Linked DNA regions of Homo sapiens. The protein of the gene in region 2 interacts with the protein of the main gene of each other region in a biochemical or structural test. Each region holds a gene or a part of one and is shown on either strand. Other genes may lie near its edges.

Region 1 (5,239 bases), on a different chromosome or scaffold from region 2:
GTAATCTAAACATTTATTCTGTGTAACAGGAAGCTAATGGGTGAATGGGCAGAGGGATTTGGGGATTACTTTTTACTTAGGCTTGGGATGGGGTCCTACAAGTTTTGAGTATGATGAAACTATATCATGTCTGTTTGATTTCATAACAACATAAGATAATGTTTATTTTATCGGGGTATCTATGGTACAGTTAATTTCACGTTGTGTAAATATCCACTTGGAGACTATTTGCCTTGGGCATTTTCCCCTGTCATTTATGAGTCTCTGCAGGTGTACAAAAAAACCCCAATCTACTGTAAATGGCAGTTTAATTGTTAGAAATGACTGTTTTTGCACCACTTGTAAAAAGGTATTTAGCGATTGCATTTGCTGTTTGTTGTTTTATTTTGCTTTATATATGACTTGCAGAGGATAACCATAAAATGGGTAATTCTCTCTGAAGTTGAATAATCACCATGACTGTAAATGAGGGGCACAATTTTGGACTCTGGCGCCAAACTGAGTCATAGGCCAGTAGCATTACGTGTATCTGGTGCCACCTTGCTGTTTAGATACAAATCATACCGTCTTTTAAATATTTTGAAGCCCATTTCAGTTAAATAATGACATGTCATGGTCCTTTGGAATCTTCATTTAAATGTTAAATCTGGAATCAAAATGAAGCAAAAAATATCTGTCTCCTTTTCACTTTCTTCAGTACATAAATACATTATTTAATCAATAAGAATTAACTGTACTAAATCATGTATTATGCTGTTCTAGTTACAGCAAACACTCTTTAAGAAAAATATCCAATACACTAAATAGGTACTATAGTAATTTTTAGACATGGTACCCATTGATATGCATTTAAACCTTTTACTGCTGTGTTATGTTGATAACATATATAAATATTAGATAATGCTAATGCTTCTGCTGCTGTCTTTTCTGTAATATTCTCTTTCATGCTGAATTTACTATGACCATTTATAAGCAGTGCAGTTAACTACAGATAGCATTTCAGGACAAAATAGATGACTCAAACCATTTATTGCTTAAAAAATAGCTTACGCCATGCTATGCTATAAGCAGCTTTTATGCACATTGACAAATGAAGAGTAAGCTTCAGCTTGCTAAAGGAAACTGTGGAACCTTTTGTAACTTTTGGTGATATGGAAAATTATTTACAAACCGTCAAAGAATATGAGGAAGTTGCTGTATGACATAGTGCTGGCACTGATATTATCCATCATCTCTTTTTGGACACTTCTGTAAATGTGATTGGATTGTTTGAAAGAAGATTTAAAGTTTCAAAGTTTTTTGTTCTGTTTTTGCTTTGCATTTGGAGAAAATATTGAAAGCAGGGTATGTTGTTTCATTCACCTTGAAAAAACCATGAGTAAATGGGGATATAGAATCTCTGAATAGCTCGCTAAAAGATTCAAGCAAGGGACATGAATTTTGTTCCATCTATCAATAATATCCAGAAGAACAACTTTTTTAAAGAGTCTATAGCAAAAAGCAAAAAAAAAAAAAAATTCTAAACACAAAGTCAAAATAAACCTATTGTAAAAGCATTTCGTGATGAGCATGAAAAAGATTGTTTAAAGATGATCCCCCCAGCTACCCATTTTCCAAAACTACACAGATCACAGCTCATTTCTCTAAGTGGAGCAGTTATCAAGAAACCCAAACACCAAAATTGCTACTCTTCACATTTAATCCTACAAAAAGTACTCCAATTTCAAAATATGTATGTAACCTGCGATTTCAATGATTGTTGTTCATATACATCATGTATTATTTTGGCCCATTTTGGGCCTAAAAAAGAAAACTATGCCTTAAAAATCAGAACCTTTTCTCCCCACTATGCTTATGTGGCCATCTACAGCACTTAGAATAAAAACAGATGTTAAAATATTCAGTGAAAGTTTTATTGGAAAAAGGAATTGAGATATATAATTGAGATTTGGTGAAATTGAAGGAGAAAATTTAAGTGAGTCTTTAAAATATATTCTGAATGAAAACTGTATTGAGGATTCATTTTTGTTCCTTTTTTTTCTTTTTCTCTTTTCTCCTTTTTCTTCTTTTTAATAGTCTAGTTTTAGTCAGTCAGTGAGGAAGAATTGGGCCATGCTAACGTTATCACAAGAGAACAATGGCAGAAATGGTATTAGTTATATAATATTTAAGGACAAACTATATGTTTTGCTGTTTTAACGTAGTGACTCACTGAACTAAATACATAATTGACCAACATTAAGTGTATTTCCAATACAGAAGGGTTGAAAATATTACATTATAAACTCTTTTGAAAAATGTATCTAAAATTTTTTAAGTTCTGTTTTGATTCCACTTTTTGGTTGAGTTTTTATGTTTTTGTTTTCAGGTAGATTAATAAATCTGGCAGCTGATTTCTGCAAGATTCTTGTGTTTTGAATTTCTCATTGAATTGGCTACTCAAACATAGAAATCATTTGTTAATGATGTAATGTCTTCTCTCAGCTTTTATCTTCACTGCTGTTTGCTGTCTCTTGATGATGACATGTTAATACCCAATAGATTAATTGCAACAAACACTTATACTCAAATAACTAAGTAAAAATAATTTTTCTTGTTATGTCCATGAAAAGTGCTTCAGAATAAAAATCCACAAGACTGACAGTGCAGAACATTTTTCTCAAATCATGGGCGGATCTTGGAGGTCTAGTTTCCCGTAGATGCTGTAACCAATTACCACAACTTCAGTAATTTACACAAATTTATCTTATAGTTCTGGAGGCAGAAGTTCAAAAGAAGCCTTAAGAGACTAAAACCAAGATGTCCTTAGGTCTGGTTCCTTCTGGAGGCTCCAGGGGAGATTCTTCCAGCTTTCACTTCTAGAGTCTGCTGACATTCCTTGGCTCCTGGCTACATCACTTCAATCTCTGCTTCCATGGTCACATACTCTTCTACTATAGTCAAATTTCCTTCCTGCCTCTTATAAGGATGCTTGTGATTACATTTAGGGGATGCTCAGATAATCCAGGACAATCTCTCCATCTCAAGATCCTTAACTTAATGACGTGTGCCAAGTCCCTTTGGCTAGATAATTATTCATAGGTCCCAGGGATTAGGACATGGATGTAAGGGGTGAGGGCAGGGCTGTTATTCAGAACACCGCACGGAGGAGGAAGACTGTGTAGCAAAGACTCTAATTGATTTACTCAGGAACAGTGGAGTTCTGCTGAGGGATCTAGGATTTGAAAGTACTAGAGTTTGCTTTTATTTACCACTGAGATATTTTCCCCTTATTCTGCATAAATAATTTTGAAAACTTTCTATATTAAATTTCAACTATTCCACTAAAATGTCTGGTAATCACATCAAGCCTTTAGATTATTCAAATCCTTCCCCAGCCCCCAGGAAAACACTAAGTCATGAAACAGAAAAACAGAAGGTATGATAATAATAGTAATAACAGTTAAATCAGTGGTCTAATCCAGATTTTATTTTTTAATACATTTCTTTTGGTGTTAATATGGGTTACTATGTGATCTTATCATTTGCTAGTGATTATTACTTATTAGGTAAGAACAATGTGTAAAATATGTCTATTACTCAAAAGAACAATTGCAAAATGAGTCAACTTATCTTTATATAACCAGGAAAGAAATATATTGCCAGAAGCTACAGAATTTTGCCAGATGATAGGGATTTCTAAAATGAGCCACTTTGTCTATCATGCAGCCTTTTCAGAGCTTGTAATGAGAAAACATTACAGAGGAGAAGGTCATTTGGATGTTTGTTACTTGGAATCCTAGAAAACAAAAACTAAAATTTAAAAATAAGAAGTGAGTAAGCTATTTTCCATTTGCGATTTGGTATGGAGAAGAGAGGAAATAGAATTATTAAAAAAATACAAATTGGGTAAAAGTGATGGTGGAAAAAATATAAAGAAGGCAAATGTACATATTAAGCAATTCTACTAAGAATTGGAAAAATCAAGTTTCAAAAAGATGGTAATAGTTGGGCATGATACTAGAAAATTTCACCCAGTTTATTCAGAGCTCAACTAGTACTTTTAGGACTTCTTTTTTTATATACATGAGACTCACTTTGACATACTTAAAAAAAAAACAGTTTATGGAAAGTACAGTTTAAGAGGAGAATTTGATTAGACTAAGTGGATATCTTTATAGAAATATTAATGATTTCAGAATTTTCAGTTACAAGTGTATATACCGTGGCTATTGTTTATGGATTCATATGTAAGGTAGGGTCTTTTTTGCATATAGACTCCAGTATTAGTTACTTTCATTCTAAAATTATATTTATGCTTCTATGGGGAAGAAAATTTTTAATTCACTTGGTTGTATTAAAATTATACTTACGGTTTGAGAAAACATGCTATGAAAATCATGATTATAGCAAATTAAATATGCTCAAAATTTAAATCTAAAATAAAAGCCCAGAAACTGAAAATATTGGACTGTCGTGATCACTCTGAAAGGTAGCACATCTAAAACTGATAAACGTCATCTAAATTTTTGACTGTCTTCTAATCATCGTGTCATTTTTAATAGTTTATGACCACAGCACTCAAGTAATGTGTTTGCACTACTTTGCCATATATTATTCTTTTAGATAATTTAGATACCAGGACACCTGATAAATCCTTTTTGAGTTCTACGTTCTAATCTCTGTAAATATCTTGTTTCACATAAATCCTTCAATAAATGTATCATGGAGAAATTTGGGGAAGGGAACTAACTAAATTATTTCAGTGACTCCCACATGCCAGACAGCACAGATATGTGAATTATGTTACTGCCTCCAAATTGCTTGGTTTTGTCTGGTGAGAAACTGAAGCTAATGGCAAAACCAGTATGTCTTGGTGTCAAGATGTCGTGGTCACAGGCAAATCATGAACCCTACCTTTTGGGGAACTTGGACCTAGCTACTTTTCTGATTTAATTTCTAATGACAAAAATATCTATAATAATAACAGATTCTGCTGAAACACGGTGTTATTTAATTTTTTTTCTTTTTTGAATATTCCTTGTAGAAAAATCTAAAAAGAAATCAAGCACTATTTAAACAACAGCAACAATAAACTGAGTTGTTTTTTAAGTGTTTTTAAGCATTCAGAAATCAAACTGATTGAAGTACCTCTTTGTTTCTTTCCATTGGAGATGGGTACAGCTTAATGAAGAAACAGAAATACTAATCAAACTCTTCAGAAAGTTATATACACTGTCCCCATAATTTATATTATTAG
Region 2 (7,301 bases):
AAGTGGCATATCAGAATTTAACTTATTTACTTAGATCTTAAGGAATATTAGATGTATTCTCACATGAACACTCAAATCATGCTATTATTATCAGTCACTGGGAGAACAGCCAAAGTAATCAGGCAGTCTAAGGCACATATAGACCCAATAATTTAGAAATTTTCACCATTATGAGGTACCCTGTTTTTAATAAATATGACAATAACAGGCGCTTGAAATGGGGGCAAGGTGAATAAGTATCCAGTCAATTGTATACTTTTATAAAGTAGTGTATTTGAGAACATAAACTGAGATACAAAAGGAATTTCCTTACTTTAAAAAAAGTGACTTCTATCTTAGTAGATTTCTTTAAAATAACTTACCTTATATTTAAAAGTTAGTCATTTACATACTTAAGAAATCAACAGTAATCTAAAAAAATTAAAAGGCAGTTTTCTTGGGTAATGAACCTGTGACTCCAAGACAGACAACAATGTGGAAATTAACTCAGGAGACTGACTTTCTATTCTAGTAATTCAGTGGTTTCTTACTTTATAAAGGTTTGGAAGAATTAATGAATTTCTTTTTTTCTTAAGACAGGGTCTCGCTCTGTTGCCCAGGCTGGAGTGCAGTGGTGTGATCACAGCTCACTGCAGCCTCGAACTCCTGGGCTCAAGCGATCCTCCACATGTTGGCCTCCCATGAGCCACCATGCTCAGCTAATTTTTATTTTTATTTTTGGAGAGACAGTGTCTCACTATGTTGCCCAGGTTGGTCTCTAACTCCTGGTTTCAAGTGATTCTCCAGTCTTATACTCCCAAAGCACAAGGATTACAGGCCTGAGCCACCACACTCAGCCAATCAATTTCAAAATGCTAATTAACCTCTTTCAGACACACGATCTGGCAGAGTAATTAGAAGAAACTGGTCTTTCTTAACATCTTTCCTCTATTATCTTCCTTTTCTTATTCTTGCCTCTCAATTTGTCATATACAGTTACAAAATATATGAATCAGGATTTATGTTGGCATGAAAATTATATGCAATACAATCAGTAAGTGAAGAAGGGAGGGGGTGGTGTGGCTCTAGTCCCAAAGTTAATGTCATAAGGAGAAATAATGTAAGTATTTGTATTTCTTAGATCTTCTTCTATTTTACTCTTAATACCAAAAAAAGAGTCCTATCATTTAACTTTTTATATATTTTGTAGTGTTTATTTTTGATGTGACCAAATGAAAGCTTTCTGAATTTTAAAGTGCAATTCACTGTATGTTAATACACAGCCTGCATAGGACCTAACTGCTTCAAACTTGGCATCAAATGCTGTCTTTTTGGTACTTATAAGTAGGGTGTAGATAAAGATATTTGACAAGAGTGCAACAGTGTTTGTTAAGGTCTTTTCAAAAGCCCATTTGAGATTATTCAGGCAGGCTCATCAGTTGACAGCTAGCCTATCTTTCCTTCTTCCTGTTAGTCTGACTGCCTTTTTACCCATTTCATCGCCTGTCGAATCCTCCTCAAGAAGAGGCAAGGGAAATAAATGAAAATGAAACCCATTAATTTCCAATATTCACAATGAAATCAATCACATCATCAATCTGTATACTGTCTGACCATTTTTCTGGATCATTTTCTATTAGCAACATAGTCCCTTTAGTTTGTACTTTATAACTAGTATTTTCTACCAGGATGCACAGTTTAAAAAATGGCTTGAAGAGCCAAATATGTTCCCAATATGTCCAATATAATTATAAATATGGTCATTTTCTTGATTACTAGAGATCTGTGCCTGATGGAATCACATTTTGTGAATTAGCAATAGTTTGGTAATAATTCACACAAAATTTCCCATAATTACTAGGAATAACTGAAAGCTGGGAGTAGAAAACTTTCATTAACTCAATATTATGTAGCCATTTGGGCCAGCAAAAAGTGTAAAATATTATTCCCAATAACCACTGTGGACAAAATGTGAACAGGATAATATAATATTTTGAAAATATTTTAATATTTGCCATTTTTTGCCTGTGCTATTAATATATACATTGATTTAGTAATAAATATACTACTATTACATAGAGTGCAATATTTTTAGTATTCATAACTGGTTGAAATTAATGCTGCTATAACCTCAAGAAAGGAATAAATAAATATCATGTCCAAATTCCAAACTAATGCTCAAAAGGTTATCATTAACAAAAACTATAAAATAAACATGTTGGGCATTATCTCTTTAAGCATGATTCCTGTAAACAAAGCAAAAAAATCACTTTTCTCAGTCCTGACATTTCACATGATGGCTTTAAAAGAAAATATAACACACAAACCCTATCACTTCTTTTTTTTTTTTTTTTTTTTTTGCATAGGGAACGAATTAATTGTATTTTTAAATGCAGCAATCTTTTAATGAAATGTTTTCATCACATAGTACTTGTTTTCTGTATGAATTCAGAACTTTTGAGCAATAAAAGTGCTCTGCATAAGTTTATAAAATATGCTTTCTGGATTTAAAATTTAACAGAAAAATTTCCAAACAAGTCATAGGTATGATTCTAAAATATTATGTACATAATATATGACTACAGGAGGAAATTCCTCACTGTAGTACAACACAGTGTACAAATATGAAGCACAGTGTTTAGTTTAATTTCCCTTTAGGTTTTCCTCACATTGGTGCATAAGTGGCTGACTACATGACACAACATGCCCCATTCTACTTGTTGCATACAAAGTAGAAGAGGAATGTGAGGACAAATTTAAAGTAGAAAATGAAAATAAATGGCAAAAATACAGTGCAAATGCTTTAAACAGTGCACTTTATAAAATAGTTTGCTTTATTCATACTTTTTTATAAAGTGCAATATTACTTAAAACAGAGAGACATGTACCTTAATATTCTGCAATAACCATTAAAACAAATTGCCAGGAAAGAGCAGTGCAAAATTAAAAACATACACATAGCTTAGCATGCATCTCAGATGGATCCCGAATACAGAGTATGGGACCTTGAGTTCTTATATCTTTTTTTTTTTTTTTCACTTTTTAGAAAAAGTTTAATAATAGCAGGTTATCATCATATGTAACCATAAAATAAAAACAATAAGTTAAAATCTTCTCTCAAGAAATAAGTATATGCCACACATAAAATTCATTACAGAATCTTTTTTGAAAACAGACCCCTTTCTCTGATAAATCATTGTTTGAAGGGTGCAAATTTCAAAAACCCACATTGTCCACAAGGCAAAGCAAAAGGTATCATCACAGTATGAGTCATTTCTTGTTGGCAGACATCTGGAAAACCTGTGACTTACAAGCAGCTCAAATCTAGCCCTAATTAAATTTACAGGAACCTTTGCTCTTTCAAGAATAGTCTTGTTGGCATCATGCTAGGTTGCTAAAAAGAGTAATATGTGCTCTATTCACAGTAACATTCTCTGTCCAGTGCTTTTGAATGAGGATAACCAAACAGGTTTTCCTGAAAAAAATCATTAGGAGGCAGATTCCAATGAGACCAACGGGAAACATTTTTAAAAGCATAAAAGATCGCCTCAGGCATATGCTGAGGGAATAAAGGTGCAATGGATCACTGATACACTCCTACCATGCCTAAGCTACTGAGTCCGAGAACTGGAAGAGGGTCTCCGGGTTATTGCTGTCGGCAGGATTGCTGGGCTGCAGTGTCTTGGTGGGTGTAGTTTTACCGTGAGAATGAGAGGAAGAAGAATGGGAACTCTCACTGGAACTGCTGCGCGTCTCGGTACTGGTGCTAGTCTTTTTCATTTTTCTTCTCTTAGCCAAAGGGGCCTTATCAACATTCTGAAGGCAAAACCCCTCTCTCTTGTATTTGTTAAAGGCCTGGCGGGGGAAAAAAAGGGAACCCCTGTGAAGGTAAAAGTACTGAAGCTTTCCTAGCAGTTATGACTTACAGCAGAAGACAACTTTCCATTGGCAACTGCAGCCCCAAGTTGTTTTAAGGGAACAAAGCTCTTAAAACCTTTATATCTAAGTCTATTGGCAGGGTGGAGAAGTTCATGGGAAAAAAATTCTGAGGGCTCTGTTTATATCAAACTAGCTAGGCGGTCTGAGAGTCACAATTCTAATAAATCTTTTGAAGAAGTTAGTACTACATCCTAATACGAAACAATTGACTGGAAATTCCTGAAGACCATCAGTAATCTAAACTATCCCCATTGCTTTTACTGGTTCTGTGTCTAAGATTTAAAATTCTGAACACAAAGTCCCAATGCAAGCAGACTTGACGCATTCTGAGTCTTTGCTCTTCAGTCCCATTCAATGTCATTTGGATATATACTGGACACTTACACGCATGGAGAAGCACAGCTCTACAGCTTTGCCCTGGCTTCCTCCTCCTGCAGCCTGTCTTCACTCTCCTTAGCCTAGGCTTGGATAATGCTGCAGTTACACCTTGTAGTTGTCACCTTGCAACCTATGTCACTGAGAAGATTTGGATCATCTGATAGAAATTCTTGCAGTTAATCTCTTTACCATCTCAACATTTCCTAGTTTATTACTTTTTAAATCCATTTCTGCTGCTGAAGAAGCACTATCCCTATACCTTCTCCTTTCTCAAAATAATCCCTTTGAAGGTGACTTTCTGTTTCCCTAACTCATCTTATACTATACTTCACATGAATTATCTTAATATATTTGCATCTGCTTGGCACAAATGTGCATAATCCACAGTTTCTACCAAATAGTCTCAGTCTTTCAAACATACAATCTATACTTAATACCAATGAACTTACTTCATATCCCTCCCAGTTTTAAGAATGTGTGATGTACTAAATGGTTGTAAAATGAATGGACTTTCAAATATGCCTTAGTTCCTAATGTTTATTATGGTTTTTAAAGAAATTTAGTCAGTCTATTTGAGAGGAAAAAGTTCTATTATCTCATCTCATAAGGTCATTCTAAAAATTAAATATGTATTTTGTGGGTTAGCAGTGACTCTGGTCCCCTGTGCACTTATTGTTATAAAGTGTTTATAACCATGAAGCAATTTATAAAAACATACCTAAAAGTAAAAGGACACATATTATTTTAAATGTGAAACAAAGAAAACGTATCTGAGGCTACAGAGTAAGAACATTTGATTATGATTCCTACTCAAACCGCCCAACATGTACAGAGCACAGGGCCTTACGTGGAAGGTTGCTTTCACACAGGTATGCACGGCAGCTCCGGAAGATCCTAGAATATCCGGAGTCATCAGAGGATTGGAGGACAGCTGACTTCCATCTTGTAGCCATTCATTGTACCTCAAGCCAGACATTTTAAGCCTTTTGTTTGGATCTACTGTGAGAAGTCCTTTGGGAATAGATATTTTTATTTTATGATTTGTCATTTTAAACATGGTTTAAAAACAAACTCAGAAATAAATCTCAGCTATGTTCACATGACATAATGGTTTCTATATAGCTTTAACCTCCTACAAAGATAATTAGATTTTCCTATTCATTTAAATTCTTTTGTGAATGCTGGAGTCTAATGATAAAGTCACAGTAGCCTATTTCTAGGAAGCTCCAGGCGAAGTGGCTTTTCAATCAGGAGAAAATAAACATCCAAAACAAAGATTCCCACTGGTGACTTCGTAAGCTCCAAATGAGCAAAAAGCACACAGATCTACTTCATCCATATACCAAACATTTACTGGCCATCTTCTATAGGTCAGGGAGTGCAGTAAGGCACTAGAGATATGGAGATGGAGATGCAGAGAGGAGCTATTAATATCAGAAGACACACAGGCAAAACCCCAGCTATTATAACATCAGGGATAAGTGCGATAGCAAGATACACAGGCACAGTGTGTTAGCAGGCCTGAGGGAGAGTGTAGCCTAGGGAGTGAGGGCATCCTGGAAGGCTTCTAGGAGATGAATCCTGTAGGATAAGGAGAAGTGGCTATGGAAGAGGATTAAGAGCATGTAAAGACACGGAGGGATCTGAAAGCTCAGCATATCTGAGGAATTCAAATATCCTGCAACGGCAGAGCTGGGGTGAGGAGGAAACAAAGGCAGACAGGACCAGGTCATGAGGGGCTTTGAATGTTAAATGCTAGGCTAAGGAGTCTGACCTGAAGCAAACAGAGAGTCTCCAAAGGATTTTTGGCAGAAAAGAGGCATAATCACATAGGGATTCTAGAAAAGTCCCTCTATTGACAGATGATGAACAGCTTAAGTCAGAGGAAGTGAGGCAAGGTGAAAGGATGCTGCAGGATTTGGGGAGAGAAATGGTGATGAGAACAAAGGCAACGGCAGGTGAATGGGAAGGAAGGGACCGGACTGCTAGGAGCGCTGCTGAATGTGTAGAACTCTGTGACTGGCTGCAGAAGGCAGGCAGGTGCAGGTATCCAGGAGGACGCCTAGGTTTCTGTTTTGGTGATCTGGCTTCTTAGCAGTGCCACTGTTGACAGGAGGAAAGACAGGAGGAGGAGCGTGTTTGGGGGGAAGGACAGTCAAAAAGTATTGGTTTGTTTTAGATGTGCTTGACTGAGATGCCAGTGGAAGTCAAGTGCTAGCTCATGTTAGAAATGTGGATACCATTACTAAAGAGAATGTTCTGATAAGAAAACAAGGCTGAAGAGAGTAGCCTGGAAGCCTTTTAGAATACACATGGATTCCTCGAGTAATTAACATATGAATGTATGTGTAATGGCCATGATTCTACTTCAATCACTACACATCATATAAAATGTAAAATTTCATTAGATTCTTACCTTGGATCAAATCTTTAGCCTCTTGGGATACATTCTTCCAGGCTTCTCCTTCAAAGGAGAAATCTCCCTTTTTAATTTTCTTCATGATTTCCACCGCGCTGGTACACGTCAAACTTCGGTCATGAGATTGGAAGGGAACCTGTCCTGACAACATTGTGTACTATCAGGGAAAAAGTAACAAAACAGAATGACTACCCAGATCTGTTAAAGCCACTCTAATAATCCTAATAGTAACGTAACTGGTGTAATTTACCAATTGCTACAACTAGCATGATTGAGTTTAAAAGATTACGTGATTCCTCAGGGATCTAGAACTAGAAATACCATTTGACCCAGCCATCCCATCACTGGGTATATACCCAAAGGATTATAAATCATGCTGCTATAAAGACACATGCACACGTATGTTTATTGCGGCACTATTCACAATAGCAAAGACTTGGAACCAACCCAAATGTCCAACAACGATAGACTGGATTAAGAAAATGTGGCATATATACACCATGGAATACTATGCAGCCATAAAAAATGATGAGTTCATGTCCTTTGTAGGGACATGGATGAAGCTGGAAACCATCATTCTCAGCAA

What was found.
Region 1: of the proteins of RPS6KA5 (region 2) and ETV1, one has a biochemical effect on the other in vitro, tested with the Homo sapiens proteins (one study listed by BioGRID).

The regions. Positions count from the first base shown.
Region 1 is NC_000007.14:13,890,433-13,895,671, reverse strand, and holds the end of ETV1 (ETS translocation variant 1), read left to right. Parts: 3' UTR 1-4,443; downstream 4,444-5,239. UniProt on the Homo sapiens protein: Transcriptional activator that binds to DNA sequences containing the consensus pentanucleotide 5'-CGGA[AT]-3'. Required for olfactory dopaminergic neuron differentiation; may directly activate expression of tyrosine hydroxylase (TH).
Region 2 is NC_000014.9:90,868,489-90,875,789, forward strand, and holds part of RPS6KA5 (ribosomal protein S6 kinase alpha-5), read right to left. Parts: intron 6,873-7,301; coding exon 6,713-6,872; intron 5,308-6,712; coding exon 5,144-5,307; intron 3,835-5,143; coding exon 3,586-3,834; 3' UTR 1-3,585. UniProt on the Homo sapiens protein: Serine/threonine-protein kinase that is required for the mitogen or stress-induced phosphorylation of the transcription factors CREB1 and ATF1 and for the regulation of the transcription factors RELA, STAT3 and ETV1/ER81, and that contributes to gene activation by histone phosphorylation and functions in the regulation of inflammatory genes.